4 separate regions of the Homo sapiens genome follow, and regions 2, 3 and 4 are each reported to be linked to region 1. The links are microRNA targets in miRTarBase. Many come from high-throughput screens and were not tested one by one. Region 1 holds a microRNA gene; each other region holds the end of a gene's coding sequence.
Evidence for each region. Region 1 holds the annotated microRNA hsa-miR-4478 (GAGGCUGAGCUGAGGAG, at 2,702-2,718, opposite strand). A microRNA usually pairs through its seed, bases 2 to 8, with sites in the 3' UTR of a target mRNA and lowers its output. Matches are read on the target gene's strand: a 7mer-m8 pairs with bases 2 to 8, a 7mer-A1 pairs with bases 2 to 7 and ends in A, and an 8mer does both.

Region 2: the mRNA of ZNF99 is a reported target of hsa-miR-4478. Seed matches in the 3' UTR shown: 7mer-m8 at 2,994-3,000 and 7mer-A1 at 3,173-3,179.
Region 3: the mRNA of IREB2 is a reported target of hsa-miR-4478. Seed matches in the 3' UTR shown: 7mer-m8 at 4,005-4,011.
Region 4: miRTarBase lists POLR1G as a target of hsa-miR-4478. Seed matches in the 3' UTR shown: 7mer-m8 at 5,758-5,764, 7mer-m8 at 5,628-5,634 and 7mer-m8 at 5,466-5,472.

The regions. Positions count from the first base shown.
Region 1 is chr9:122,117,446-122,124,607 of GRCh38, forward strand. It overlaps MIR4478 (microRNA 4478), which reads right to left and starts at 2,722; the gene lies at 2,637-2,722.
Region 2 is chr19:22,750,803-22,757,964 of GRCh38, reverse strand. ZNF99 (zinc finger protein 99) reads left to right here. Exons shown (of 4, transcript NM_001080409.3): 4 at 1-5,782. The coding sequence ends at 651. Among named protein-coding and RNA genes, the nearest start is that of ZNF99, 30 kb to the left of the region's middle.
Region 3 is chr15:78,496,817-78,503,978 of GRCh38, reverse strand. It overlaps IREB2 (iron responsive element binding protein 2), which reads right to left. Exons shown (of 22, transcript NM_004136.4): 21 at 6,668-6,853; 22 at 2,526-5,946. The coding sequence ends at 5,836. Among named protein-coding and RNA genes, the nearest start is that of HYKK, 7.2 kb to the left of the region's middle.
Region 4 is chr19:45,408,771-45,415,770 of GRCh38, reverse strand. POLR1G (RNA polymerase I subunit G) reads right to left here. Exons shown (of 3, transcript NM_012099.3): 3 at 5,034-7,000. The coding sequence ends at 6,270. It overlaps ERCC1 (ERCC excision repair 1, endonuclease non-catalytic subunit), which reads left to right. Exons shown (of 10, transcript NM_001983.4): 7 at 811-910; 8 at 1,737-1,808; 9 at 2,026-2,094; 10 at 6,046-7,000. The coding sequence ends at 6,096. Among named protein-coding and RNA genes, the nearest start is that of POLR1G, 5.6 kb to the right of the region's middle.

The DNA.
Region 1 (7,162 bases):
CTCGTGAGAACTCACTCACTATCATGAGAACAGCATGAGGGTAACCACCCCCGTGATTAAATTACCTCCCACCGGGCCCCTCCCACAACATGTGGGGATTATGGGAACTACAATTCAAGATGAGATTTGGTGGGGACACACCCAAACCATATCAGCCGCCTAGCTCAAACCTTAGGCCCATAACCTTAATGGCTGGCCTCCAGGGCTTAAAAAGTTCAGGACTGAATGAGGCAATGCATGTAATGTGCACTGTATCTGGAATTATCTCAGTGCTCAATAAATGGTATTATTAGTCTCAACAAACCTCTGCAACCCAAATGTTGGCCCTTTATGCAGATACAACAGGTTGTATCTCCCGTTGTTTCTGGGTCAGCTAATGGTTATGGCAGTCAGGCACAGTGGCTGATGCCTGTAATCCCAGAGCTTTGGGAGGCCAAGGGTGGAGGACCACTTGAGGCCAGGAGTTCGAGACCAGCCTGGGCAACATAGTGAGACCCCTGTCTCAAAAAAAAAAAAAAAAAAAACCATGGCTATTGAATGACTAGTCTGTGCCAGTTATCACATTTAATCCCATGAGAAATTTCCCCGCCCAGGTTGCAGAGGAGAAAAGAATGACTGAGGGAGGGGAAGGGACTGGCCCAGAGTCACACTGCCAGGCACAAGGCCAGCACCAGGCCATGGGGCTGTCTGCTATAGCACGACCCTCAGCGGGACCTGGGTGCCCAATGTCAGGCTCTCTCTGCCTCTGCAAGAAATGTCAGGGAGAAGATGACCAAGTGGTATTGGACAGAATGGCAGTGATGCTGAGGAAGAAACCAAAGGTGAGGGCCCTCTCCCTTTGTATTAAACGAAACTTTCCAGGCTTAGGCCCTGCAGCCTGTACGGTGTCAAAAAACAATTGTCATAAGTTGTCGACACTTGGAAACATTTAAACTTATGAGGTTTCACATTAAAATCTGTATTACTGCCTTCCTTTACAAATCTGGAAGAAGGAATGCATCTGTATAGGTGGGTAAGAGCAGGGGCTCTGGAGTCAGACTACCTGGGTTCCAATCCTAACTCTGCCACTAGCTTGCTGTGTGTCCTTGGCTGAGTTACTTAACCTCTCTGTGCTCTGCTTCCTTCGTCTGCATAACGGGGATAATAACAGCACTTTCACCAAGATTGTCATGGAGATTAAATAAGAAAGTGCCTATACAGCACTTCTTTAGAACAGCACCAGGCACAAAAGAAGCATGCAAAATGTTAGCTGGTGTTATTTGTAACTTTTTTTTTTTTTTTGAGACAGGGTCTTTCTCTGTCACCCAGACTGGAGTGCAGTGGCACAATCATGGCTCACTGCAGCCTTGACCTCCTGAGCTCAAGTGATCCTCCTGCCTCAGCCTCCCAAGTAGCTGGAACTACAGGCTTGAGCCACCGTGCCTGGCCGTTTGTATCATTATTTACAGTGTTTAGTATTAGGCAGTGCTGCCCCTGGATTCTGTCCCAGGCAGAGCTGAGTAATAGCTGCCCCTTTAGATGAAGTGTGACCTCTTCCATTGTCCACAGCCCACAACCCCAGGGACCAAGGCTGAGGTCCTAAAAAAGCCAACACTGTGTAGGGGCCTGACTCCTGGCTGCTATGTGACTTTGGACAGTCACTCCCTCTGTCTGGGCCAGTGTCCTCACTTATAAACCAGAGGCACAGGGCCCTGAAAACATTATGCTAAGTGAAAGAAGCCAGACACGGAAGGCCACATAATGTCTAATTCCATTCCTACCAAATGCCCAGAATACGAAAATCCATGGAGACGAACAGTGAATTAGTGGTTGCAGAGGCTGACGGAATGGGGAGTGACATCTCATGGCCACAGGGTTTCTTGTGGGGTCACAAAAATGTTCTGGAGCGCCATAGTGGAACCGGTTGCACAACCTTATGAACACAGTCATGCGTTACTTAATGATGGGGATACGACCGGGCACAGTGGCTCATGCCTGTAATCCCAGCACTTTGGAAGGCCGAGGTGGGCGGATCACCTGAGGTCAGTAGTTCGAGATGAGCCTGGCCAACATAGCGAAACCCCATCTCTACTAAAAATACAAAAATTAGCTGGGTGTGGTGGCACGTGATTGTAATCCCAGCTGCTCAGGAAGCTGAGGCAGAAGAATTGTTTGAACCCGGGAGGCGGAGGTTGCAGTGAGCCGAGATCGTGCCACTGCACTCCAGCCTGGACGACAGAGTGAGACTCCATCTCAAAAAAAAAAAAAAAAAAAAGATGGGGATACATTCTGAGAAATGTGTCACCGGGCAATTTTGGTGGGCAAACTTACATGAACCTAGATGGTGTAGCCTACTGCACAACTAGGCCACATGGCATAGCCTATTGCTCCTACACTATAAACCTGTACAGCATGGTACTGTGCTGAATACTGTCAGCAATTGTAATGCAATGCTAAGTATGTGTGTATCTAAATATATCTGGATGGTTTCCCTGCAGGTAACAGCTGGCTCTGATGTCCTAAGGAGACCCCAGCGCCATGACAAACCCAGGGATCTCTGATTGCTCCCAGCCTGAGTCGCTTCATATCCTACATGGGAGGCTGAATCCACAATCCCTCCTGCAGACGTACCCTCTCCTCTCCCTTGTCCCTGCAGAGGCCAGGGCTGCAGGGGATGAGGCTCGCCCCTAGTACTGCATGACCCTGTCTACAGGTTTGGAGGCTCCTCAGCTCAGCCTCGGCCCCTGGGCTCTTGTCTTGCTAAGCCCAGAGACCCAGCTCCCACTGGGCTTGGTGGCTGCTTGAAGTGGATCATGCCTTGCACCTCCCCCTCCTCTCCAGAATCTTCTATGTGTGCCGAGACTCCCAGAACAGGAGACATTTGGCTACATCACCCAAGATGGTGCCCACTTTCCATTGCCATGGGTCTAAGAAAAGGTGAAGTTCCCTCCCCCAGCCCTTCCCTGCCTGCTGAGGGATAGGACATGTGTCCCCATTTGCAGTGGATGCAGGGAGGGCTGGAGAAATGCTCTGTGCTCTGAGTAAGGCATGTTCCCCTGTAAGTGTGCCCATGACAGCTTGTGTATGCATATGTGCATGTATGGATATGCATGTTTGTTGGCAGGGATCTGTGCACATTTGTAGGTCTGCCTTTCTACCCGTCTTGTGTTCTGGACTGTGCACATATCTGCCTTGACAGACTTATCAATGTTCACACACTGGCTACACCTGTACCTTGTCTATATGTGTGGCTGCGTGCGTGAGTCTGCTGGAGCTCAGCACTTGTGTGGCTGAGCTGTTTACACCTGTCTGAATATGAGGGGTGTGTTCACGTGTCCCCTGAACGCACACTAGTGCATGTGTCCCTTCTGTGTGTGTCAAGGCAGGCCGCACGGCCATGAGGACCATAGCCCAGGCCTTGGAAGTTTTCCACGAGCTTAGACTCCAGCACCCACTGCACATGGCAAATGGCACCAGTGACCTGCCGTGGAAGGCACAGATGCCAGAGGGCACCACTACTCCAGCAGGAGCAACACCAACAAGGCCAGCACCAGCCCCACCCATGGCCTCCAGAGATCCTGGAGCCTGGAGGGCCCAGACGAGCTGGCAGCTCCAGGCTCCAGGCTCCTCAAGGTCCCACAGACAGGCCAAAATCCAGACAGCGGGAAGGGACAGCACAAGCCGGAGCCTGGGGACCAGAGGCAGTTTGGGGGTGCTCCATGGGGCCACACCCCAAGCCTGCTCTACATATTCTTCTAGGGCTCCAGAAGTGGGGAAAACCACAGGTGGGGAAGGCTGCCCCACAGGTGTACAGGTACAGGTGTGAGGCTGACATAGGTGGGTGAAGGATCAGAATCAAGAAGAGGAGATACTTCCTGCCTGATGAGTCTCTAGCTGTCCCCTCCAGGGCGCAAAGCCCCAGCACCTCCTTCTCTCCTGTCTTTGGGGCACCCAGCCATGGCCCCAGCCCCTTGGGCTCCAGCAGCAGCAGCAGATACAGGAGGCTGAGGCTCAAGTGAGAGTGGCTAGAGGGCAAGTGAGCTGAGCAGGTGGAGGCCAGACCACCCTTTCCCATCCCAGCTGGCCCGGGCCACAGGTGCCACTCGATGAGGCCTCAGCTAAGCACCGAGACAGTTGCCCTCAGACAGCCCACGCCAGCCAGCTCCCTGCACCAACCGGAAGCTCCTGCGGCACCTGGCACCACCCGAGGCCCGCCTGGGAAAGAGAGGGCCTGAGAGCCAACTCAGCCTGGCACCCGGGAGGCGATGGTCTGGTGAGACTTGGGAAGCTGAAGGTCCTGCCCCAGGTGGAACTCAGAAAGATAAAGAAATGGCAGCTCAGAGATAGGAGGGGACTTGCATAGGCTGCCTGTCCAGGCAGCGGCCAAGCTCTTGTGACTGTAGAGTCCTTTATTACCCTTTCCCACTCCCAAGCCAAAATGCTGGTACCAGGACCCAACTGAGTCAGATCCATCTTCAGTTTCCCCTAGACACCCACCCAGTGGGCTCCAAGAGGCCAAATCCCGGGGACTGGACCCCTAGGACAAGTCGGTGACCCAGGGTTGCCTGCCCTTCTTTGCCCCAATACCAGGACTGCCCTGGGCCTATAACATGCTTTCCTGAATTCTGGATAGGTCTCCCTACCATAGCTCAGAGAGGGTTGCCCACTTGCCCAAGATCACACAGCCGGGGAGCTGGCACCGGACAACTGGCCCGTGGGTGTTCTCCTGTGTCACTGTCCTCGGCTGCCCTGGGCTGGCCCAGCTTCTGAGGGGAAGGGGCCCTCCACAGAGGTACTGTCTCCCCAGGCCACCTCTTGCTCCTGCCCTGGCTTCAGCTTCCCTGCCACCCACCAGCAGTGATCAACTAAAGCCACACTTTGTCAGACATGGAATGAGGCTCCAACCCTGACTCCTTGTCCCCAGCTGAGGCCACCAGCAGCCACCAGCACACCAGCCCCTCTGAAGATCTGATGGCGGCCCAGAGCCAGGAATCAACTGTCGTGACCCTCACATTGCCCCTCCCACCAACTGGCACCAAAGGACTGCAGACCCACAGGGCAGCACTGGGAGGCATCCCAGGATAGGGTGGGGCTGCCTCAGAGACCTGAGGACCAGCAGTGCTGAGGAGACTCTCATGCTCTTTCCCTCCTTGTCTCGATGAGCCCTGAGGCCCAAAGAGGGCACAGGTGCTGACATGTCCCAGAGAGGGCAAACAGTGGCAGGACAAGGAGCCTGCACAAAGAGCCAGAGCTCTGCCCTGGGGGCAGACAGAAGAGGCAGAGGCAGCCCCACCCCCACCCCAGTACTCCCCGTAAGAGGAAGCAGAGGCCACCTTCACAGACGGTCGCTGCAGGCAGGTTTAACCCAAGCTCATGGGATGGTCTGTCCTCACTCAGCTAACCTTGCACACGCCTGTAGGCCTCCTCGGGCTAGCATTCTGTGTTCTCACCACATGCTATACCTGTGCCATTGACCTTACTCACTTAACACACTTATTGTGGTCAGATGGGGGGTGTCACATTGAGCTGGGAAGGCGGTAAGGGGATGCAGAATGAAGGGGATCCCAACAGGGTCCAAGAGAATATGATGTCCAACTGCCCCATTTTGCGGAGAAAGAAACTGAGGCCCAGAGAGCCCAAGGACGCATCACAGATGAAAACAGCATCTGGAAGCCGACTCCTTACAGAAGCCTGAGCCCACGCAGGACCTGCTTTTATGCTGCCCCCTTGTGGTCAGAGGAGGGACTGCCACCCAGAGGCGCCCCCTGCCTTGAGTCCACTGAAATATTTGGTCTCCTTTTCTCCTTCTGAGGTCAGCTCGCCTCAACCCTACCCCAGGGTCTTACTCCCTCCTTGTTTGTAGGTCCGGAGGATCCTCAAGGGCAAAGGGCACCCGAGTGTCCCCACCAAAGGCTGGCCCCCTTGAGCAGAGATACGTGGAGAGGTGACCAGCTTTGCTTTACTGAGCCTGCCTGGCAGCCCCACAGCCATATCCGGGCCCCCTCTTCAGTCCTCATCTCCGTGCCTCCTCTTGTTTTCTACATGACTAATCATGTCCTCTTTCTTGGAACCCCCTCCTTCCTTGGCCCCAGTGATGCCACACTCTCCTGGGTTTCCTCCAGTCTTCCTGGGTGTTCCTTCTCTCTTTTGTGGGCATCTTGTTCCCCTCGGTCCCAGCCTGTTGGTGCCCCCTGAGCCTCTTGTTTTTGCCTGGATTTGGAGCTGGGCCACCTAGCCGGCAAGCAGGTAGACACCTCAGGGCACCATCAGACCAGGAGCATCAAACAAGGAAGATGAGGAGGAAAATGTGTTTCTGTGAACCCATGGATGTGATGATTGCAAACGTTTTTTGTTTTTATTTTTATTTTTGTTTTTTGAGATGGAGTCTCACTCTGTTGCTCAGGCTGGAGTGTAGTGGTGTGATCTCGGCTCACTGCAACCTCTCCCTCCCAGGTTCAAGCAATTCTCCTGCCTCAGCCCCCCGAGTAGCTAGAATTACAGGCATGCGCCACTATGCTCGGCTAACTTTTTGTATTTTTAGTACAGACGGGGTTTCACCATGTTGGCCAGGCTGGTCTCGAACTCTTGACCTCAGGTAATCTGCCCATCTTGGCCTCCCAAAATGCTGGGATTACAGGTGTGAGCCACCGTGCCAGTCCAAGAGTTTTGTAAGGCATGTAAGTGTTACATTTTATAATTTAATTTAGACTCCTTTTTGACTCATGGGGGTGAGGTGAACACCATATCTTTGGTGCTTAGGGCTTCCAAGGACCTTTCCTGGGTGGCCTCAGCTGTGCACTGCCTTCAACCACCTGTCAGTAACCTTCCAACTCCCAAGTGAATATCTCCAGGCCTGATTTCAACTGCCTCCTGGATACCTCTCCAGACATCCCCTTGGCTCTCAGGCTCTAGGCTGATACCTCTCCAGACATCCTCTCCAGACATCCCCTTGGCTCTCAGGCTCTCAGGCTCTCAGAGCCACATCAGACTCATCATCTCTCCCCCAGGCCCCTTTGTCAGCACTGATATGCCCCAAGGTAACTTCATCTTCCGGCTCCATGCCCACCATGGCCAATTCCTCACCAAAGCCTGGCGAGTCCATCTCCTTAATAGCTCTGGGATCTGCGTCGTTCTTGCCACCTCACTCCTGCCCCTGTCCTGGTCCAGGCCACCACATCCCTCC
Region 2 (7,162 bases), not on the chromosome of region 1:
TACAAATGTGAAGAATGTGGTAAAGCTTTTAAGTGGTCCTCACACCTTACTAGACATAAAGTAATTCATACTGAAGAGAAACCCTACAAATGTGAAGAATGTGGCAAGGCTTTTAACCATTTCTCAGCCCTTAGGAAACATAAGATAATTCATACTGGAAAGAAACCCTACAAATGTGAAGAATGTGGCAAAGCTTTTAGCCAGTCCTCAACTCTTAGAAAACATGAGATAATTCATACTGGAGAGAAACCCTACAAATGTGAAGAATGTGGTAAAGCTTTTAAGTGGTCCTCAAAACTTACTGTACATAAGGTAATTCATACTGCAGAGAAACCCTGCAAATGTGAAGAATGTGGCAAAGCTTTTAAGCATTTCTCAGCCCTTAGAAAACATAAGATAATTCATACTGGAAAGAAACCCTATAAATGTGAAGAATGTGGCAAAGCTTTTAACAATTCCTCAACCCTTAGAAAACATGAGATAATTCATACTGGAGAGAAATCCTACAAATGTGAAGAATGTGGTAAAGCTTTTCAGTGGTCCTCAAAACTTACTTTACATAAGGTAATTCATATGGAGAGAAACCCTGCAAATGTGAAGAATGTGGCAAAGCTTTTAAACATTTCTCAGCCCTTAGAAAACATGAGATAATTCATACTGGAAAGAAACCCTACAAATGTGAAGAATGTGGCAAAGCTTTTAACAATTCCTCAACCCTTAGGAAACATAAGATAATTTATACTGGGAAGAAACCATACAAATGTGAAGAATGTGGCAAAGCTTTTAAGCAGTCCTCACACCTTACTAGACATAAAGCAGTTCATACTGGGGAGAAGCCCTACAAATGTGGAGAATGTGGAAAAGCTTTTAACAATTCCTCAACCCTTAAGAAACATAAGCTAATTCATACTAGGGAGAAATCGTACAAATGTGAAGAATGTGGCAAAGCTTTTAGCAATTTCTCAGCCCTTAGGAAACATAAGATAATTCATACTGGGGAGAAACCATACAAATGTGAAGAATGTGGTAAAGCTTTTAAGTGGTCTCAAAACTTATGGAACATAAGGTAATTCATACTGTAGAGAAACCCTACAAATGTGAAGAATGTGGCAAAGCTTTTAAGCATTTCTCAGCCCTTAGAAAACATGAGATAATTATACTGGAAAGAAACCCTACAAATGTGAAGAATGTGGCAAAGCTTTTAACAATTCCTCAACCCTTATGAAACATAAGATAATTCATACTGGGGAGAAACCGTACAAATGTGAAGAATGTGGCAAAGGTTTTAACAATTTCTCGACCCTTATGAAACATAAGATAATTCATACTGGGGAGAAACCGTACAAATGTGAAGAATGTGGCAAAGCTTTTAAGCAATCCTCACACCTTACTAAACATAAATCAATTCATACTGGAGAGAAACCCTACAAATGTGAAGAACGTGGCAAAGCTTTTAGCCATTTCTCACGCCTTACTAAACATAGGATAATTCATACTGGAAAGAAACCCTACAAATGTGAAGAGTGTGGTAAAGCATTTAGTCCTCAAACCTTACTAAACATAAGATAATTCATTCTGGAGAGAAACCCTACAAATGTGAAGAATGTGGCAAAGCCTTTAACCAGTCCTCACACCTTACTCAACATAAAACAATTCATACTGGAGGGAAAACCTACAAATGTGAAGAATGTGGCAAAGCTTTTAACCATCTTTCAGCCCTTACTAAACATAAGATAATTCATACTGGGGAGAAGCCCTAAAAATGTGAAGAATGTGTCAAAGCTTTCAACCATTTTACAAACCTTAATACACATAAGATAATTTATACTAGAGACAGACCCTCCATATGTGAAGAATGTGGCAAAGCTTTTAACCAGTCCTCAAGCCTTAATAGGCAGAAAACAATTCATGCTGGAGAGAAACCCCACAAATGTAAAGAATGTGGCAAAGCCTTTAACCAGTCCTCACACCTTAAATACACATAAAATAATTGATACTGGAGGAAAACCCTACAAATATAATAAAGGTGACAAAGCTTTTAACCATTGCTCAGCTGTTACTCAAAATGAGAGAATTCCTAAAGAAGATAAACTCCACAAATGTGAATAATATGGCAAAGCTTTTAACTGGTCCTCAAATCTTACTGAATGTAAGATAATTCATACTGAAGATAAACCCTTCAAATGTGAGGAATGTGGCAAAGCTTTTAATCAGTCCTCAAATCTTACTGAACATAAGATAATTCATAGTAGAGACAAACACTGCAAATATGAAGAATGGGCAAAGCTTTTAACCAGTCCTCAAACTTTACTCAACATAAAATAATTTATCTTGGAGAGGAACACTACAAATTTAAAGAATTTGGCAAAACTTTTAACTGCTTCTCAAAACTTACTGAACATAAGATAATTCATACTGGAGAGATACTTTACAAATGTGAAGAATGTGGCAAAGCTTCTAACGGGTTCTCAGATCTTACTGAATATAAGATAAATTAGAGAGAAACCCGCCTCATGTGAAGAGTGTGGCAAAACTTTTAACTGGTCCTCAAACCTTACTGAACATAAGATAATTCATACTGAAGAGAAACCCTACAAATATGAAAACTGTGGCAAAGCTTTTAACTGGTTTTCAGACCTTACTCAACAGAAAATAGTTGATACTGAAGACAAACTCTAGAAATGTGAAGAATGTGGCAATGCTTTTAATCAGTTAAACTTTATTAGACATAAGAAAATTCGTACTGGAGAAAAACCCTACAAATGTGAAGAAAGTGGCAATGCTTTTAGCCAGTCCTCAACTCTTGCTAAACAACATAATTCAATGGGAGAGAAACCCTACAAATGTGAATAATGCCATAAGCATTCTTCAATTTTTTTTTTTTTTTTTTTGAAACAGAGTTTCGCCCTAGTTGCCCAGGCTCTGGAGTGCAGTGGCACAATCTCGGCTCACTGCAACCTCCGCCTCCTGGGTTTTCAAGCGATTCTCCTGCCTCAGCCTCCCGAGTAGCAGGGACTATAGGCATGTGCCACCACGCCCACCTAATTTTGTATTTTTAGTAGAGACGGGGTTTCTCCATGTTGGTCAAGCTGGTCTCGAACTCCCGACCTCTGGTGATCTGCCCGCCTCGGCCTCCCAAAGTGCTGGGATTAAAGGCGTGAGCCACCGTGCCCAGCCTAATTCTTCAATTCTTAATAAACAATTTATACTGAAGAGAAACCCTACAAACGTGAAGAATGTTGCAAAGCTTTTAACGTCCTCAAACCTTACTGAACATAAGATAATTCATAATGGAAACTAGCCCTACAAATATGAAGAATGTGGCAAACACTGTAACCATTTCTCACATCTTACCACACATTAAGATAATTCATACTGAAGAGAAACCCGACAAATGTGAAGAATGTAACAAAGTCTTTAACTGGTCTTCAACTCATACTAAATATAAGAGAATTCATACAGAAGATAAATTTTATAAATATGAAGAATGTGACAAAAGCTTTAAAAACATTTCAACCCTTATTACACATAAGATAATTTATGTTGTAGAGAAATTCTACAAATGTGAAGAATGTGGCAAAGTTTTTTTTTTTTTTTTGAAATGGAGTCTCACTCTGTCGCCCAAATTGGAGTGCAATGGTGCAATCTCAGTTCATTGCAACCTCCGCCTCCTGGGTTCAAGCGATTCTCTGGCCTCAACCTCCCAAGCAGCTGGGATTGCAGGCGCCTGCCACCACGCCCAGCTAATTTTTGTATTTTTAGTAGAGACGGGGTTTCACCATTTTGACCAGGCTGGTTTTGAACTCCTGACCTCAAGTGATCCACCCGCCTTGGCCTCCCAAAGTGCCCCAAAGTGCTGGGATTACAAGCATGAGCCATTGAGCCCGGTCGAATGTGGCAAAGTTTTTAATAAGTTATCAAATCATACTGGAGAGAAGCTCTACAAACCTAAAAGACATGACAGTGCTCTTGAGAACACCTTAAACTTTTCTAAACATAAAAGAAATCATAGTGTCAAGAAGCCCTAGATGTGAGTCATGTCACAAAGCCTTTAAATGGTTGTCACACTTGAGTATAAGCTAATTTATCCTAGAGAAAACTATGAAGAATGTGGCAAAATATTTAACCAATACTCACACCTTATCGCATAGGAAAGCATTTATACTTGAAAAAAAATGTACACCTATGAAGAATGTGGAAAAGCCATTAATATCTGCTCACATCTTAACATCACAGAGTTTATACTTAAAACAAATATTAAAAATGCAATTACTGTGAGAATATCTTTTAGAAAATATAAACCTTAGAATGGTGAAGAGTATTTCTTTTGATGACAAACATTACAAATATAAAGACGGTTGTAGTACTATATTTGTATCACAGATCTTATTGTGCATATTTTGTGCTAGAGAAAAACCCTAAAGTTGCTCAAACTTTGTTCAATATCAGGGAATGTATAATAGAGAAAAAAACCTGCAAATGTAATAAATTTGGAAAAAAGTTTATAAACTACAGCTTAGAAAACAGAGTAAGTTTTTTTTGTAGATGCAGTAAATATGAAAAATATTCAATCCAAAATTAACTCTGTAAATGTCAGAGAATTCACAGTAGAAATGATAAGGCACTGGCACTTCAGACTACACTAAATCAGAGTGTTGAGTAAAAAAAATAATTTCAATCTAAAATTTAGATAAGTTATTTGCATATAACTTAAAAAAGAGGAGGTGATTTTTTGGAGAATTATAATTACATTTGAAGTATACTTTTTGTATACTTCAAATATCAAAAAAATTAACATCACAATATTGAAAAAAATTACAGACTCTGAAAAGCAAATAAGGATGTAATTCAACTCTCAAGTTACTTCATGCTCTTCATTCCTACTTTATTTACATGTGAAAGCATGCGATCAATTGTTGCTGCATCAGAGATATGAAAGATTCTTTTTTATTAGATGGGCATTATTTATGACCTTTTTCATAAAAGAGAAAGGATATTAAAATATAAAATGCATGATAAAAATCTAAATGGAGAGGCTTTTTGTGGTTAACTTAAAATATTGAGTGATGTATGAGGTAGGTGTTCTGAGGAATATATTTTTGTGCATTATAGTGAGAAAAACATTTTAAAATTTTAGTTAAAATTAAAATTAAATTAGTGATGTATTATATTAGTTGTGCTTTTATGTAATGTAGTACATTCATAAATTTTTAGATTATATGTAAACTTAATTTTTTAAACATTTTTTGACATGTTAAGTCTGTTGTACATTCAATGAAGTGTTATTATGCCACTCGCTTTAACCTATCCCACCTTACTCAAGGGTGTAGGTAAGAGATGGCAACAGTTTACTATTTGGTAAGAGTGGAATAACATCTCTAGTAATCTCTTTTTTTCAGTGGCTTTAACCTGCAAATAAATTAAAGAATATTGTTCTCGTAGGTTACATTTTTATACTTTTAATCTTATTTAAACTTCTTTTTTTTTTTGCCTTGACAAATTTAAACTTATTTTTCTTAACTTTTATGGGTACATAGTGTGTAGATATATTTCTGCCATATATAGCATATTTTGATACCAGCATAAAATATGTAATAATCACGTCAGGGTAAATGAGGGATTCTTCACCTTCAACATTTATTCCTTGAATTACAAGCAATCCAAATCTACACTTTTAGTCACTTTGAAATATAAAACTAAATTGTTATCTTTATTATAGCGTCATTTTTGTGGTCATAATAAAAATCATATAGGAATGTAAATAAAATCTATACATATCTGGGTCCTGAGTAAATATTTTTTTTAATTTGTCATCTATTTTTCTTTGAACATGTGGCCACTGTGCCTGCAAACACATACCTACAGACTTTTTTTTTTTTTTTTTTTTTTTTGCAGTTGCAAGATTTAATAGAGTGAAAACAGAGCTCTCATACAAAAGGAGGGGACCCAAAGAGGGTAGCTGGTGCCAGCTCAAATGCCTGGGTTTATATCCTGATCATTGTCCCTCCCCCTGTGCTCTCAGGGGATAGATGATTGGCTATTTCTTTACCTCCCATTTTTGCCTAATTAGCATTTTAGTGAGCTCTCTTTACTACCTGATTGGTTGGGTGTGAGCCAAGTTGCAAGCCCCGTGTTTAAAGGTGGATGCGGTCACCTTCCCAGCTAGGCTTAGGGATTCTTAGTCGGCCTAGGAAATCCAGCTAGTCCTGTCTCTCAGTCCCCCTTCTCAACAGGAAAACCCAAGTCCTGTTGGGGAGGTTGGCTGATGACCGCTCTAACTGCTTTCTGCTGAATTGGGGCATAGTAGGGGTTGTGCAGTTGAGATTTCCTCAGGAGGGGTGGCTTTGATGTCATCAACATCAGAGCATGGGCTTGCAGGCCGGTCCAGGGGTCCACGGTAGATCTTAGTCATGGACTGCATCTGGGGCTCCATTTGAAGAACGATTTGTAGCTTTACAGCTTGGATTCTGGAAGAGACAAACTTAACAAGGAGGTTAAAGATACAGGAATTGAAATGTATGGCCTGCAGTGCAGGAGATTATTTCTTTGGCACACTTCACAGGCCCTGACTATCTGCTTGATGGTTTTAAAAAGGCCTTGTCCAGTAAATAATAATTTGGCCATCTGATAGGTGCTATTAATGCCTAAGGGAAAGGTTTGGTGAAGGGTTTTAAGTAATTTCCATTGGTTAGCTGCAGGCAAAAGTATTTTTCCTTCTTCAGTGGCTAGCCATCCTGAGGGGAGGAAACTGTCGTCGTGAGGTTCCCCATTGTTTCTTCTGCTGAGTACTGGGGCTTGGTTTCCTGGAGGGGGTTACCCCATACTAGGGGTCCTTCTATAAGCATTTCTAATGGAGGGTCCTGCCTTGCATCTCTTTTGGCTTCAATGTCCGCTTGGCGGTTCCCTTCTATTTCCCTTTCCTTTCCTTTTTGATGACCCCAGCAGTGTAAGACTGCCACCTCTTTAGGTTTCTGTATAGCCAATAATAATCTAATAGCTTCCTGATGTTTGATAGGTGTTCCCTCAGAAGTTAGGAATTCCATTTCTCTCCATATTGCTGTGTGGGCTTGGAGGGCTAGGTAAGCATACTTAGATTCTGTATATATATTTACCCTTTTTCCTTTTCTTAATTCTAGTGCCCGAATGAGGGCTATTAGTTCTG
Region 3 (7,162 bases), not on the chromosome of region 1:
TCTATTTTTATAATTTTTTTAAAAAAGAGCTCAGCGATAAAAAAAAAAAAAAAACAAAACTGGAGTGAAACAAAATGAACAATTTGCAGTGAGATTATGGACATGATTTTACATTATAAAACAATGTCTCATAAAACAATATCCCAGCAGTTTTATGATACTTCCTTTATATATTACAAGTTGTTTAAAATGCTCAAAATTGGCTTTAGTTTCCACGGTGGGCTACAGCTAAAGCAGCACTTAGAGGAAAATTTAAATATTTACATTTACATTGGAGGAAAAGTGTTACAAAGCTGGGGGAAAGGAGGAAATTAAATAAGTAACAGAAAGGAAATACTTCAGAGCAGAAACCAATAAAACAAAACAAACCGGGCACGGTGGCTCATGCCTGTAATCCCAGCACTTTGGGAGGCCCCGGTGGGCGGATCACAAGGTCAGGAGTTTGAGACCACCCTGGCCAACATGGTGAAACCCCGTCTCTACTAAAAATACAAAACAAATTAGCCAGACATGGTGGCGCATGCCTGTAATCACAGCTACTCGGGAGGCTGAGGCAGGAGAATCACTTGAACCCGGGAGGTGGAGGTTGCAGTGAGCCGAGATCGCACCATTGCACTCCAGCCTGGGCAACAGAGCCAGATTCCGTCTCAAAAAGAAAAAAAAAAAAAAAAAATCCAAAACCAAAACCAAACAAAAAACCAGAAAACAATGGAGAAAATAATGTAAAAAATTGGCTCTTTAAAAAATTAACTCAATTTCTAACCCTTTAGAAAGACTAATCAAGGAAAAAAAAGAAAACACAAATTACCAATATTGGTAATAAAAAGGGACCCTGCCACAGATCATATAGATATTGATAGGGAAATACTGAAAAAAATGCTTAAAATTCAGTACTAACACCACATAAACACAAAATTCACAGTGACAACACACTTATTTAAAAGACAGGGTCTTGCTGTCACCCAGGCTGGAGTGCAGTGGCATAAATCATAGCTCACTGCAGCCTCAACCTAGGCTCAAGCGATCCTCCTGCCTCAGCCTCCCAACTAGCTGGGACTACAGGTGCACAGCACCACACCAAACTAATTATTATTATTTTTTAAGAAACAGGGTCTTGCTATGTTGCCCAGGGTGGGGTCAAATTCCTGACTTCAAGTGATCCTCCTGCCTCCTGCCTTGGCCTCCCAAAGTGTGAACCACCTCGCCTGGCCACACTTGTCATTATACCAGCAAATTTTGTGAGAATTACATATGCATCTGCTTTTGCAATAAATGCATTTTTCAAGTACAGAACACAGGTTTACAACATACATCAAATCAAAATGGTAAATCTGAAGCTACTTTGTAATTAAAAAGCAAAATTAGCATCAAGTGAAAACTGTAAACCAACTAAATGCTACACTGATGAAGCTCTTAAGTTTCCTCCTAGACTGCATATTCAAACTATCAGCTTGTGCCTATGTTGGTATTAGCCTTTAGGTAATGCAAACTTCTTAGAATACTAAATTGGAATCCTTAGAAAATTCTAATAAAGTGCCAATTATGGTTTATGATTACTGAATTCTAAGAAATAAACCTTACTCTTTTAGGTTGCTAATAATAGTGGGAAGAAAGGATACGTCTTTTTGGATGAGTGTCCCCGCCCAAATCTCATGTCGGATTGTAATCCCCAGTGTTGGAGGTGGGGCCTGGTGGGAGGTGACTGGATTATGGGGGTGGTTTCTTATGGTTTAACACCATCCCCCTTGGTGTTGTCCCAATAGTGAGTTCTCCTGAGATCTAGTTGTTTAAAAGTGTGTGGCACCTCCCCTGTCTCTCTGTTCCTCCTGCTCTGGCCACGTGAAGTGCTTGCTCCCACTTAATCTTCCACCTTGATTGTAAGTTTCCTGAGGCCTCCCCAGAAGCCAAGCAGATGCCAGCATCATGCTTCCTGTACATCCTGCAGAACCATGAGCCAATTAAACCTCTTTTTAAAATAAATTACCCAGTCTCAGGCATTTCTTTATACCAATGCGAGAACAAACAAATACACCTGGGATCCTGGCTCCCAGCTTCCGATGACTTGTTTCATGAACACTAATGAACGGGCAGCACAGGGAGCAGGCATCCTCAGCTGCTCCTGGATGGCATCTGGATGGCGGGACATTTCATTTTTGCTTTTTTTTTTTTTTTTTGAGACAGAGTCTCACTGTTTCGCCCAGGCTGGAGTGCAGTGGCGTGAACTCTGCTCACTGCAAACTCTGCCTCCCGGGTTTATGCTATCCTCCTGCCTCAGCCTCCCAAGTAGCTGGGACTACAGGCGCCCGCCATCATGTCCGGCTAATTTTTTTGTATTTTTAGTACAGACAGGGTTTCACTGTGTTGGCCAGGATGGTCTCGATCTCCTGACCTCGTGATCCGCCTGCCTCGGCCTCCCAAAGTGCTGGGATTACAGGCGTGAGCCACCGTGCCCAGCCGGATGGCAGCATATTTTTTACATCATGTTGTTTTATTTTCAACTACTACAAAACAGAACAAGAATCAAATGTGATAATACAATTTTCTTTATTAAAAATAATTTACAGCATCAGTAACATATACACAATTGTCATCAACTGAACTTTGCCTCCAATATATTTCTATACAATACTTAACATTATTGAACTTAAAACTGTTACACTGTTTTGTTGGCTTTAAATAATAGACAATGATTTTTGTCTATTACTTAGTGATAGACAAAGTGATTACTTTGTTACTTAAGTGAGATATATGGTTTCATAGCCACATATTATGTGTAAAATTGATAGAAACGTCAGCAATATCACTCTTTAGGGGAAAAAACACTGAAAAGCCAAAGTCCACCCTCTTCTTCTCTCTTATTACTCCAACCAAACTAAGATAGGATAAACATCCAGTATCTTAGTATCTCCTCCTAAACCTAAAGACAAAAGAAAGGTGTCTTCTATTCAACCACAGAAAAATGTCAAATAATTTCTTCTCATCCTCTCACTCATCACTGTGAAAGCAAATGCACACGACCTTGTTACCATATATGCAGGCAACTATGATTCTGATTTAGGTCCTAGCTTTACTTTCCTTTAGTACAACTGTTGTTTGATTACCAACGAAAAACTAAGCAATCTGGCTAGAGGGATACTAGTACCTTCTTTCAAATGTCAGCATGGAGATAAAACAAAATAGTGATAACTGTCATCTTAGAAACTTTTTAGATATAATAATGGCAATTCAGTGGCTGGATGACATTTCCATTGATTCCATTGTATAAGAGTAGCAAAACCCCAAAATATGAAAATGGCAATGATATGTAGCATAATGTTTTCAAAGTATAAAAAAAACCCTGCTGTTGGTAGTGACCTTTGAAATTGTACTTTAAGCTTACAACACTGATTTGCTTTTCTTGTGTGTCTGACATTACACTTCCTTTTTTTTTTTTTTTTTTTGGTAACACAAAATTACCCAAGGTATAGTAAACAAAGAAGACACAGACAATAAAAACTAACAGATGCCACATTTTGCAAACATAGCATTTGGCTAGAGGCAGAATTATAAGGTATACATATTAAAACATACATCCAAGACTCTCCTCCTCAATTTGAAACCATGTTTATCAAGTTTTTACTTCATTGTATATAAGCCAAAAAATTAAGAGAACCTTGATTTGTTCCTGAAATACAAGATTTGCTTGTATTATTACTGGACCAGGTAGACTGGATATGTGAATGTTTAATTCATAGTTAGCTAGCTTTACCATCATCTCCTGAATCAGCTGCTGAGGATGCCTGTGCCTCTGCCCATAACTATATATAGAGTATGCTTTCAAAACAATATAGGCCGGGTGTGGTGGCTCACACCTGTAATCCCAGCACTTGTGGAGGCCAAGGCGGGCGGATCACGAGGTCAAGAGATTCAGATCATCTGGCCAACATGGTGAAACCCCATCTCTACTAAAACTACAAAAATTAGCTGGGCGTGGTGGTGCATGCTTGTAGTCCCAGCTACTCAGGAGGCTGAGGCAGGAGAATCCCCTGAACCCGGGAGGCGGAGGTTGCAGTGAGCCAAGATCGCGCCATTGCACTCCAGCCCAGCCACAGGGCAAGACTCCGTCTCAAAAAACAAAACAAAACAAAATAGATTTGTTTCCCCCTGCACAATCTGGAATTACCATTTCTTCAGAGCACATACAGGCATTTCATCTTTCAACCTGTAATTTCTCCTAACTCATGTTTTCATGTAAATTAAAAACACATGCACTAACAAATAAATATACAGCATATATCAAGAACACAATATAATTTGAAAGTGTCGAAGAAAATACTTATACAAAATTTAAATAAAGAAATCATTTTGTCGAACTCTAGTCCATCTTATTGTCTAAACACATATTTGCAAAATATTTTCAAAAGATTGTATGATTATGTGCAAAGTTCTTAGTGGTCTTCATCCACTGGTTTGGTAGTTTCAGCATTTTGCTTACAACAAGTAATTCTTTATGCAATGTGAACTAATTCTGAATTGCAGTAACTAACTAGGTCATAGAAAGATATCTATGTGAAAAAAAATCACTACAATTAACCTTTAGCCTGCTAGACTTAGTTTCTTAATTAAAAAAACAGTATAGAACCTTCTATAATTAATTTTCCAACCTTTTTAAAAAAAATTACCAAACATCTTGTTGACAGAACATTTGATGTGATGGGCAGACATGCATATTGAGGATATATAGTACTCAGCAACAACTTAAGTGTTTTATCCTTACGGTCAGCTTTGGTTAAAACAGTAACATAACAAAATTAATAGAATCATGCATCGCAGGTGATAAATGATTCAAAATGACAGGAAATCAATTTAATTAAGAAATAGCAACACTTAAAAAATGCATAGGGTTGAGCACCCGTATTATTGAGGGTGGATAATTTAAATGTATAGAAGAAATCAGTTCAGAGTTTAATGATTGAATAACATTCTCTTTAGCAACTATGAGTGTGAAATTTTGGTTAATGATACCGAAAATATTAGGTTATAGGAAGTTACAGTATTACATAAGGTGAGCAAAATAATCTAATCCAATTAATATAACGCCATCTGGGGGCTTGCCAGACAGTCACAGTGGCAAACTGCTGAAATATGAAAGGCTGCATCATATGTGATACATATTCCCACTGCTAATACATGGTGCCACACAATCAGTTGTATCCTGCCATGGTCCATCTTCATATGTGGAGGGAACCTTGGCTGGATTGGACAGAATGATTGTGACCTGGGGCAGGTTCCATCCCTTGCAGTTAGACTAAGGATAAACCTGGTTATATGACAAACTAAGAATGCCAAATGTGTCCAGCTCAATTCTGAAGAGGAATTAATATACTTAAAAGGTCCATTTATAAATGAGATTCCAATGGCCACAATTTTAGAGTCTAATCTGGCTTCTTATATTTCAATCTGCTACTCTTAAACCAACAAACAGTAGTACACAGTTTTATTGGTGCAAAACTAAACAAATCCAGGAAGGTTATTCATATAAGAATCTTCAACACAAATTCTGCCTTTATTTACAAAATGGTCTGATAAAATATCGCCCCCCCCCCATACTTACAGGTCTCTTCCACAACACACTTCACACGTTGATTTTAGCAATATTAATAGCACCATTCGTATATTATTTAAAATCAAGAAGATTTCATTTCAGTTACTATGTTGATTCATCATCATTTACATCCATGGATGAGATAAGTGAGTATACTGGGACTATCTGCTGCTCCATGGTAAGGATTCCTGGGTCCAGCACAAAAGGCTTTGCAGTTACCAGTTATGAAAGGTATCTATGGTAAGTAGATACTATGAGAATTTTCGTGCCACAAAGTTTAATAATCCTCCATGTTTGTATAATGTTATTTCCACATCATCTTCAAACGAAGCAATCACGCTGAATACTTTTCCAGTGCTTGTCTTGAAAGGAGCAAAAACATCTCATGTGAGCAAGTAAATCTTCCAGGTGCTACTTGATGGTTAAGACCATTTGTCTTCATATTTAATGACTATACTTGCCACAGATTCTGTCTGATTTATCTTGGTTCTAATTTCTTATATTCTGATTGCCTGAAACTTTGCTGCTGCTTGAAAAACACCTGAGATACCTGACCATGGGCTTCATAGTTAAGTAGAAAAATAGCTGCATTTAGATTTTGACTTATTAATTGGGGAAGTTATACTCACTACTCACATTCATTTTACACCAAATATTGATTGCATGTAATCAGTAACTCCTACTCTTTCCCCTTTTTTCTTAGTTGTAAAGTCTGTTTTGCTCTAACTTTGAACGCTCAACTTTGCTCTCTTTGGAGTGGTATGTATGCCTCGGTTAAAATTAGATCAGGACAGCAAAAAAATGACCACCATGAAAAGAAAGCTGACACTTGTTAAGTGGAAGTCAAGATTCCCCTTCATGTGTTCTTTTTTTCTGGTATAAGCACCCAGTTCTTTCCACTTTTCCTCAGAGAACATGAACTATTAACATAGCTAGATCTAAGTATGGAAGAGAGAGTCATCTTAAATGGCAACTTAACATTCATTAAGTGACATTAGTATATAATTTACAGCAATTGATTCTTATTCAATAATTCATAAACATTTGAGTGCATAATCATATATTTGAAAAATTTAGAGATACCTGTATATTCAATGTAATTCCAGGAGACAGTTCTTCAGGAAATGTTAAAGAAAATGTTTCTCTACCGGAGAGGCCCAAGGAATCTGCATTTTCTCCTGGAAGGAACTGAAGTGGAGCTATGCCAATTCCAATCAAATGATCTTTGTGTATTTTTTCATAACTTTCGGCCAAAACAGCTTTCACACCCTGTAATAAATGTGCATTTTATTCCCTCTAATCACTTCTGAAAGTTATTTATTGAGCATTTAAAGGGGGCAAAAATCTACTTTGGCCTTTCTCTAAATACTTTTAGTCTAATATCTCATACTGAATCAATATTTTATCAAAGTATTTACAGAACCTTCTTACAGATTATTTTTCTGAATTTTTATGGAGCTCTCTAAATTATTCGGATCCCTTTCTGCTGCTCTAGGGTTAAGTACTGCCGCTGCCTACCACATCATAAGAGCTCTATAAATGGGCCGGCTCCCTTGACCCCAAAGTAGGGCTCAGAAG
Region 4 (7,000 bases), not on the chromosome of region 1:
AAGAGCTGGCCTGTAGCCAGAAAAGATATCAAGATGCGCCCAGCAGTGGTTACTACCAGGTTGTATTTGGCGGGGGATGGGCTGGAATTTTGATTTTTAGCAACCACAATTGTTTTTTTTTTTTTTTTTTTTTTTGAGACGGAGTCTGGCTCTGTCGCCCAGGCTGGAGTGCAGTGGCGTGATCTCGGCTCATTGCAAACTCCACCTCCCGGGTTCACGCCATTCTCATGCCTCAGCCTCCTGAAAAGCTGGGACTACAGGCGCCCGCTACCACGCCCGGCTAATTTTTTGTATTTTTAGTAGAGATGGGGTTTCACCATGTTAGTCGGGATGGTCTCGATCTCCTGACCTGGTGATCTGCTCACCTCAGCCTCCCAAAGTGCTGGGATTATAGGCGTGAGCCACCACACCCGGCCTTTTTTTTTTTTTTTTTCTGAAATGGAGTTTCACTCTTGTTGCCCAAGCGGGAGTGCAATGGCGTGATCTTGGCTCACTGCAACCTCCGCCTCCCGGGTTCAGGCGATTCTCCTGCCTCAGCCTCCTGAGTAGCTGGGACTACAGGCACGCGCCACCAAGCCCAGCTACTTTTTTGTATTTTTAGTAGAAACGAGGTTTCACCATGTTGGCCAGGCTGGTCTCGAACTCCTGACCTCAGATGATCTGCCTGCCTCATCATCCCAAAGTGCTGGGATTACAGGCGTGAGCCACCGCGCCCGGCCTAGTATTGGCAATTCTTATGACTGACCATAATGAAGCAAATCTATAATCTGATACCTCACCTCCCGGCTGCCCTGTATCCTGTTATCCCAGCCCCGAGGAAGCTGGGCGGTACCTGGAGACCTACAAGGCCTATGAGCAGAAACCAGCGGACCTCCTGATGGAGAAGCTAGAGCAGGACTTCGTCTCCCGGGTGAGGCCACCTCACCTCCCATCCCTGCCTGGGCCTCCCCGCAGCTCCTGGGTGGTTGAGCTTCAGTTCCAATTTTAAGGCACTGTCCATTCATCCCTGGGCCTCGTCTTTCCTGGCCCATCCCACCGAAACTGCAGCTAGAGGGGTTTTCCTGAGCACAAATCTGCTGCTACCCTCCCTAGCTCAAAATCCTCCCATGGCTCCCCAGTACCCCGAGAGAAAGCCCAGACTTCTCACCAGGCTCAACAAGGGCCCGTCAGGCTCAGAAGCCCCGTGGCCTCCACTTCACACTTCACTTCTCCCAGGCCTAGCTCGCTTCTCCAAGCACTTGCCCCTTCTGTTCCCTCTGCCCAATTACCTGCCTAATTCCTTTTTTTTTTTTTTGAGATGGAGTCTCACTCTCTTGCCCAGGCTGGAGTGCAATGACATGATCTCGGCTCACTGCAACCTCTGCCTCCCAGGTTCAAGTGATTCTCCTGCCTGAGCCTCCTGAGTAGCTGGGACTACAGGTGCCCACAACCATGCCTGTCTAATTTTTGTATTTTTTAGTAAAGATGGGGTTTCAGTGTGTTGGCCAGGCTGGTCTTGAACTCCTGGCCTCAGGTGATCCTCCCGCCTCGGCCTCGAAAGTGCTGGGATTATTAGGCATGAGCCACCACGCCCAGCCTGAGATGACTTTTTAATCAGTTGGGAAAAAAAGCGTTTATTGAGTGCTTCCTGCACGCCAGGCAGTCTGGGGACACAGCTGTGACCCAGCCCTGCCCTCCTAGGCTCAGTCTTGCTGGCCTTTCTTCTTCCGACACACTCCTGCCTCCACCCTTTCCAGGTGACTGAATGTCTGACCACCGTGAAGTCAGTCAACAAAACGGACAGTCAGACCCTCCTGACCACATTTGGAGTAAGGAATGGCTCCCCTGCCCCATAGGCATTTCTGTCCCCTTGCCTTTTTTAGAAAGCCTGTCACCCATTTCCTTCCATCTCCCTGCCCACCCCTTGCCCGTCCTGCCTTCCCACAGGCCCTCATCTCCCCTGGGGAATATCTGAGGCCCCTCCTCAGCTGGGACAGGGGAGGCTTTTGTGCTCAACTGCCCTGACCCCTCGCTTTCACCTTTCAGTCTCTGGAACAGCTCATCGCCGCATCAAGAGAAGATCTGGCCTTATGCCCAGGCCTGGGCCCTCAGAAAGTAAGAGCTCTGGGAAAGAACCCAAGGAGTTGGGGGAAGGAGAGAGCCCCAAATAAACACAACCTGAGACCCCAAAGTTTTAAGGTGAAAAAAGAACCAAAGACCAGACACAGTGGCTTCCGCCTGTAATCCCAACATTTTGGGAGGCCAAGGCGGGAGGACTGCTTGAGGCCAGAAGTTGGAGACCAGCCTGGGCAAGTGGACACCTCATTTTTACTAAAAATAAAAAAAACTAGCTGGGCATGGTGGTGTGAGCTTGCTACGTGCCTGTAGTCTCAGCTACTGGGGAGACTGAGGTGGGAGGATCGCTTGAGCCCAGGAGGTTGAGGCTGCAGTGAGCTATAAGCATGTTACTACGCTCCAGCCTGGGTGACAGAGCGATCCTGTCTCAAAGCAGAAGCAATCCAATGAGGAAGAATGAAACTAGATAGCTATCTCTCGCCATATACAAAAATCAAATTAAAATGGATTACAGACTTAAATCTAAGACCTCAATGCATGAAACGTCTACAAGAAAACATTGAGAAGCTCTCCAGGACATTGAACTGGGCAGAGATTTCTTGAGTAATGCCCTATAAGCATAGGAAACTAAAGCAAAATGGACAAATGGGATCACATCAAATTAAAAAGCTTCTAAGCCAGGTGCGGTGGCTTGGGCCTGTAATCCCAGCACTTTGAGAGGCTGAGGCGGCTGGATCACCTGAGGTCAGGAGTTTGGGACCAGCCTGGCCAACATGGAGACACCCCATCTTTACTAAAAATACAAAAAAGTAGCCAGGTATGGTGGCACATGCCTGTAATCCCAGCTACTTGGAAGGCTGAGGCAGGACAATCGTTTGAACCCGGGAGGTGGAGGTTGCAGTGAGCCAAGATAGCGCCATTGCACTCCAGCCTGGACAATAAGAGTGAAACTCTATCTCAAAAATTAAAAAAAAAAAAAAGAATAAAAGGCTTCTGCACAGCAAACATTCCACAAAGTGAAGAGACAACACACAGGATGGGAGAAAATATCTGCAAACTAACCATCTGACAAGGAATCAATAATCAGAAGATAAGAGTTCTAACAACTCTATAGGATAAAATATAATAATCCAATCAAAAAGTGGGCAAAATATTTGAATTAACATTTCTCAAAAGACATACAAATGGCAAGCAGGCATATGAAAAGGTGCTCAGCATCATTGATCATCAGAAAAATGCAAATCAAAACTACAGTGAGGCTGGGTGCAGTGGCTCATGCCTGTAATCCCAGCACTTTGGGAGGCCGAGGCGGGCAGATCACTTGAGGCCAGGAGTTCAAGATCAGCCTGGCCAACATGGCGAAACCCCATCTCTACTAAAAATATAAAAATTAGTTGGGTGTGGTGGCGCATGCTTGTAATCCCAGCTACTTGAGTGGCTGAGGCAGGAGAATCTCTTGAACCCGGGAGACGGAGGTTGCAGTGAGCTGAAATCACACCACTGCCCTCCAGCCTGGACAACAGAAGCAAAACTCCATCTCAAAAAAAACCAAAAATAGGCCGGGCATGGTGGCTCACGCCTGTAATCCCAACACTTTGGGAGGCCGAGGCGGGTGGATCGTGAGGTCAGGAGATTGAGACCATCATGGCTAACATGGTGAAACCCCGTCTCTACTAAAAATACAAAAAAAAATTAGCTGGGTGTGGTGGTGGGCACCTGTAGTCCCAGCTACTCGGGAGGCTGAGGCAGGAGAATGGCATGAACCTGGGAGGCAGAGCTTGCAGTGAGCCGAGATCATACCACTGCACTCCAGCCTGGGTGACAGAGTGAGACTCCATCTCAAAAAAGAAAACCAAAAACCAAAAATAAACTATAATGAGATACCATCTCAGCTCTATTAAAATGGCTTATTATTATTTTTTGAGATGGAGTCTCACTCTGTTGCCCAGGCTGGAGTGCAATGGCATGATCTCAGCTCACTGCAACCTCCGTCTCCTGGATCCAAGCGATTCTCCTGCCTCAGCCTCCTGAGTAGATGGGATTACAGGCACTCGCTACCATGCCCAGCTAGTTTTTGTATTTTTAGTAGAGATGGGGTTTCCCTAGGTTGGTCAGGCTGGTCTTGAACTCCTGACCTCTGGTGATCCACCCACCTCGGTCTCCCAAAGTGCCGGGATTACAGGTGTGAGCCATGGTGCCCGGCCTTAAAATGGCTTTTATCCAAAGGACAGGCAATAACAAATGGTGGACAGGCAATAACAAATGGTGGCGAGGATGTGAAGAAAAGGGAACCCTCATATACTTTTGATGGGAATGTAAATCAGTACAACCACTATGGAAAACAGTTTGGAGGCTCCTCTAAAAACTGAAAAGTTGAGGTTCCACATGATCCAGCAATCCCACTGCTGGGTATATCCCCAAAAAAAGGAAATCAGTGTATGGAACAGGTATCTGCACTCCTGTTTGTTGCAGCACAGTTCACATTGCCAAAACTTAGAACCAACCTGTGTCCATCAGCAGATGACCAGGCAAAGAAAATGTGGTACTTACACACAATGGATACTCTTCAGCCATAAAAAAGAATGAGATCCTGGCTGGGCGCGGTGGCTCACACCTCTAATCCCAGCACTTTGGGAGGCCGAGGCGGGCAGATCACTTGAGGCCAGAAGTTCAAGACCAGCCTGGCCAACGTGGTGAAACCTTGTCTCTACTAAAAATGAAAAAATGAGCTGGGTGTGGTGGCGCGTGCCTGTAATCACAACTACTTGGGAGGCTGAGGCAGGAGAATCGCTTGAATCCGGGAGGCGGAGGTTGCAGTGAGCCAAGATTGTGCCACTGCACTCCAGCCTGGGCGACAGAGCGAGACCCTTTTCAAAACAAAACAAAACAAAACAAAAAAAACATGAGATCCTGTCAATTACAACATAATGAACTGGGGATTATTATGTTAAGTGAAATAAGCCAGGCACAGAAAGACAAACATTGCATGTTCTTATTTATTTGTGTATCTAAAAATCAAAACAATTGAACTCATGGAGATAAGAGTGGATGGATAGTTCCTGGAGGCTGGGGAGGGTAGTTAGGGGCTGGCAGGGAGATGGGGAAGGTTAATGGGTACCACACACACACACACACACACACACACACACAAAGAAAGAATGAATAAGACATACTATTTGATAACACAACCAGGTGACTATAGTCAATAATAATGGTACATTTTAAAATAACTTGGCAGGGTGCGGTGGCTCACACCTGTTATCCTAGCACTTTGGGAGGTCAAGGCAGGTGGATCACGAGGTCAGGAGTTCGAGACCAGCCTGGCCAATATGGTGAAACCCCTGTCTCTACTAAAAATACAAAAATTAGCCGGGTATAGTGGTGGGCACCTTTAGGCCCAGCTACTCGGGAGGCTGAGGCAGGAGAATCGTTGGAACCCAGGAGGCGGAGGTTGCAGTGAGCCAAGATCACACCACTGCACTCCAGCCTGGGTGACACCAGGAGACTGTCTCAAAAAAATAATAATAACTTAGCCAGGCGCAGTGGCTCACACCTATAATCCCAGCACTGGGAGGCTGAGGCAGGCGCATCAGGAGGTCAGGAGATCGAGACCATCCTGGCTAACGTGGTGAAACCCCATCTCTACTAAAAAAAAATACAAAAAATTAGCTGGGCAGGGGCCTGTAGTCCCAGCTACTCAGGAGGCTGAGGCAGGAGAATGGCGTGAACCCGGGAGGCGGAGCTTGCAGTGAGCCGAGATTGCGCCACTGCACTCCAACCTGGGCGACAGAGCGAGACTCCATCTCAAAAAAAAAAAAAATAATAATAATAATAATAACTTAAAAAGATTGTAACTGGATTGTTTGTAACTCAATGGATAAATGCTTGAGGGTATAGGGGAAAATAAAGAACCAAAACCCCACTCTAGATTTACCCAGGAAACAGCTCCTTTAATGACTGGTTCCTCATTTTTTTCTCCCTCCCATCCAGGCCCGGAGGCTGTTTGATGTCCTGCACGAGCCCTTCTTGAAAGTACCCTGATGACCCCAGCTGCCAAGGAAACCCCCAGTGTAATAATAAATCGTCCTCCCAGGCCAGGCTCCTGCTGGCTGCGCTGGTGCAGTCTCTGGGGAGGGATTCTGGGGGTGTCACCTTCTGGTGGCCCAGGTGGGCACCTTCAGCTTTCTTTAGTTCCTCAGTTTCCCGGGGGCAGACTACACAGGCTGCTGCTGCTGCTGCTTCCGCTTCTTGTCCCGGCCTGTGGGAGCCTCCTCCCCAGACTCTGAATTCAGTGGCGGCCCTGGCATCTCCTCTTGGGGCACTGTCTCTGGCATCCGGCTTTCCTGACTCTGCTTCTTCCTCTTCTTGGTGGATCCCGGAGTTGCCCTGGCTTCAGGCTGTCCCTCCCCTGGCAGTTCAGGCTCTAGTGGCTGAATTGGCTCAGTCACTGTGTGACCTCTCTCTTTCTTCTTCTTCTTCTTCTTGGTGGATGTGGGAGCTGCCTGAGGCTCAAGGTCATCCGGCAGCTCAGGCCCCACCACCTCTGTCTCTGGCTCCACTGTGGCATCTTGCTGTTTTTCTTTCTTCGTCTTCTTTTTGGGAGCTGCCAGAGCTGCCTGGGCCTGAGGCTTCGCTCCTTCTGGCTGTTGAGGCGCCATGGTCCCCCCTGGGGACTCCAGAGGCTTCATCTCCGGCTCCACTGGCTCCATCGCCTCCGTCCCTGGCTCCATCATTGCCATCTGTCCCTTTTCTTTTTTCCTCTTCTTCGTAGGGGGCAGAGGGATGGCTTCCTCCAGTGGCTCCACCTTCACCTGTGGCTGAGACTCAACTGTCACCCCCTCCTCTGGCTCCATCCCTTCCGTCCCCTTTTGCCTCTTTCTCTTTTTGGTCGGGGACAGGACTGTGTCTTCTAGAGGCTCAGTGTTAATCTGTTCCTGCTTCACTG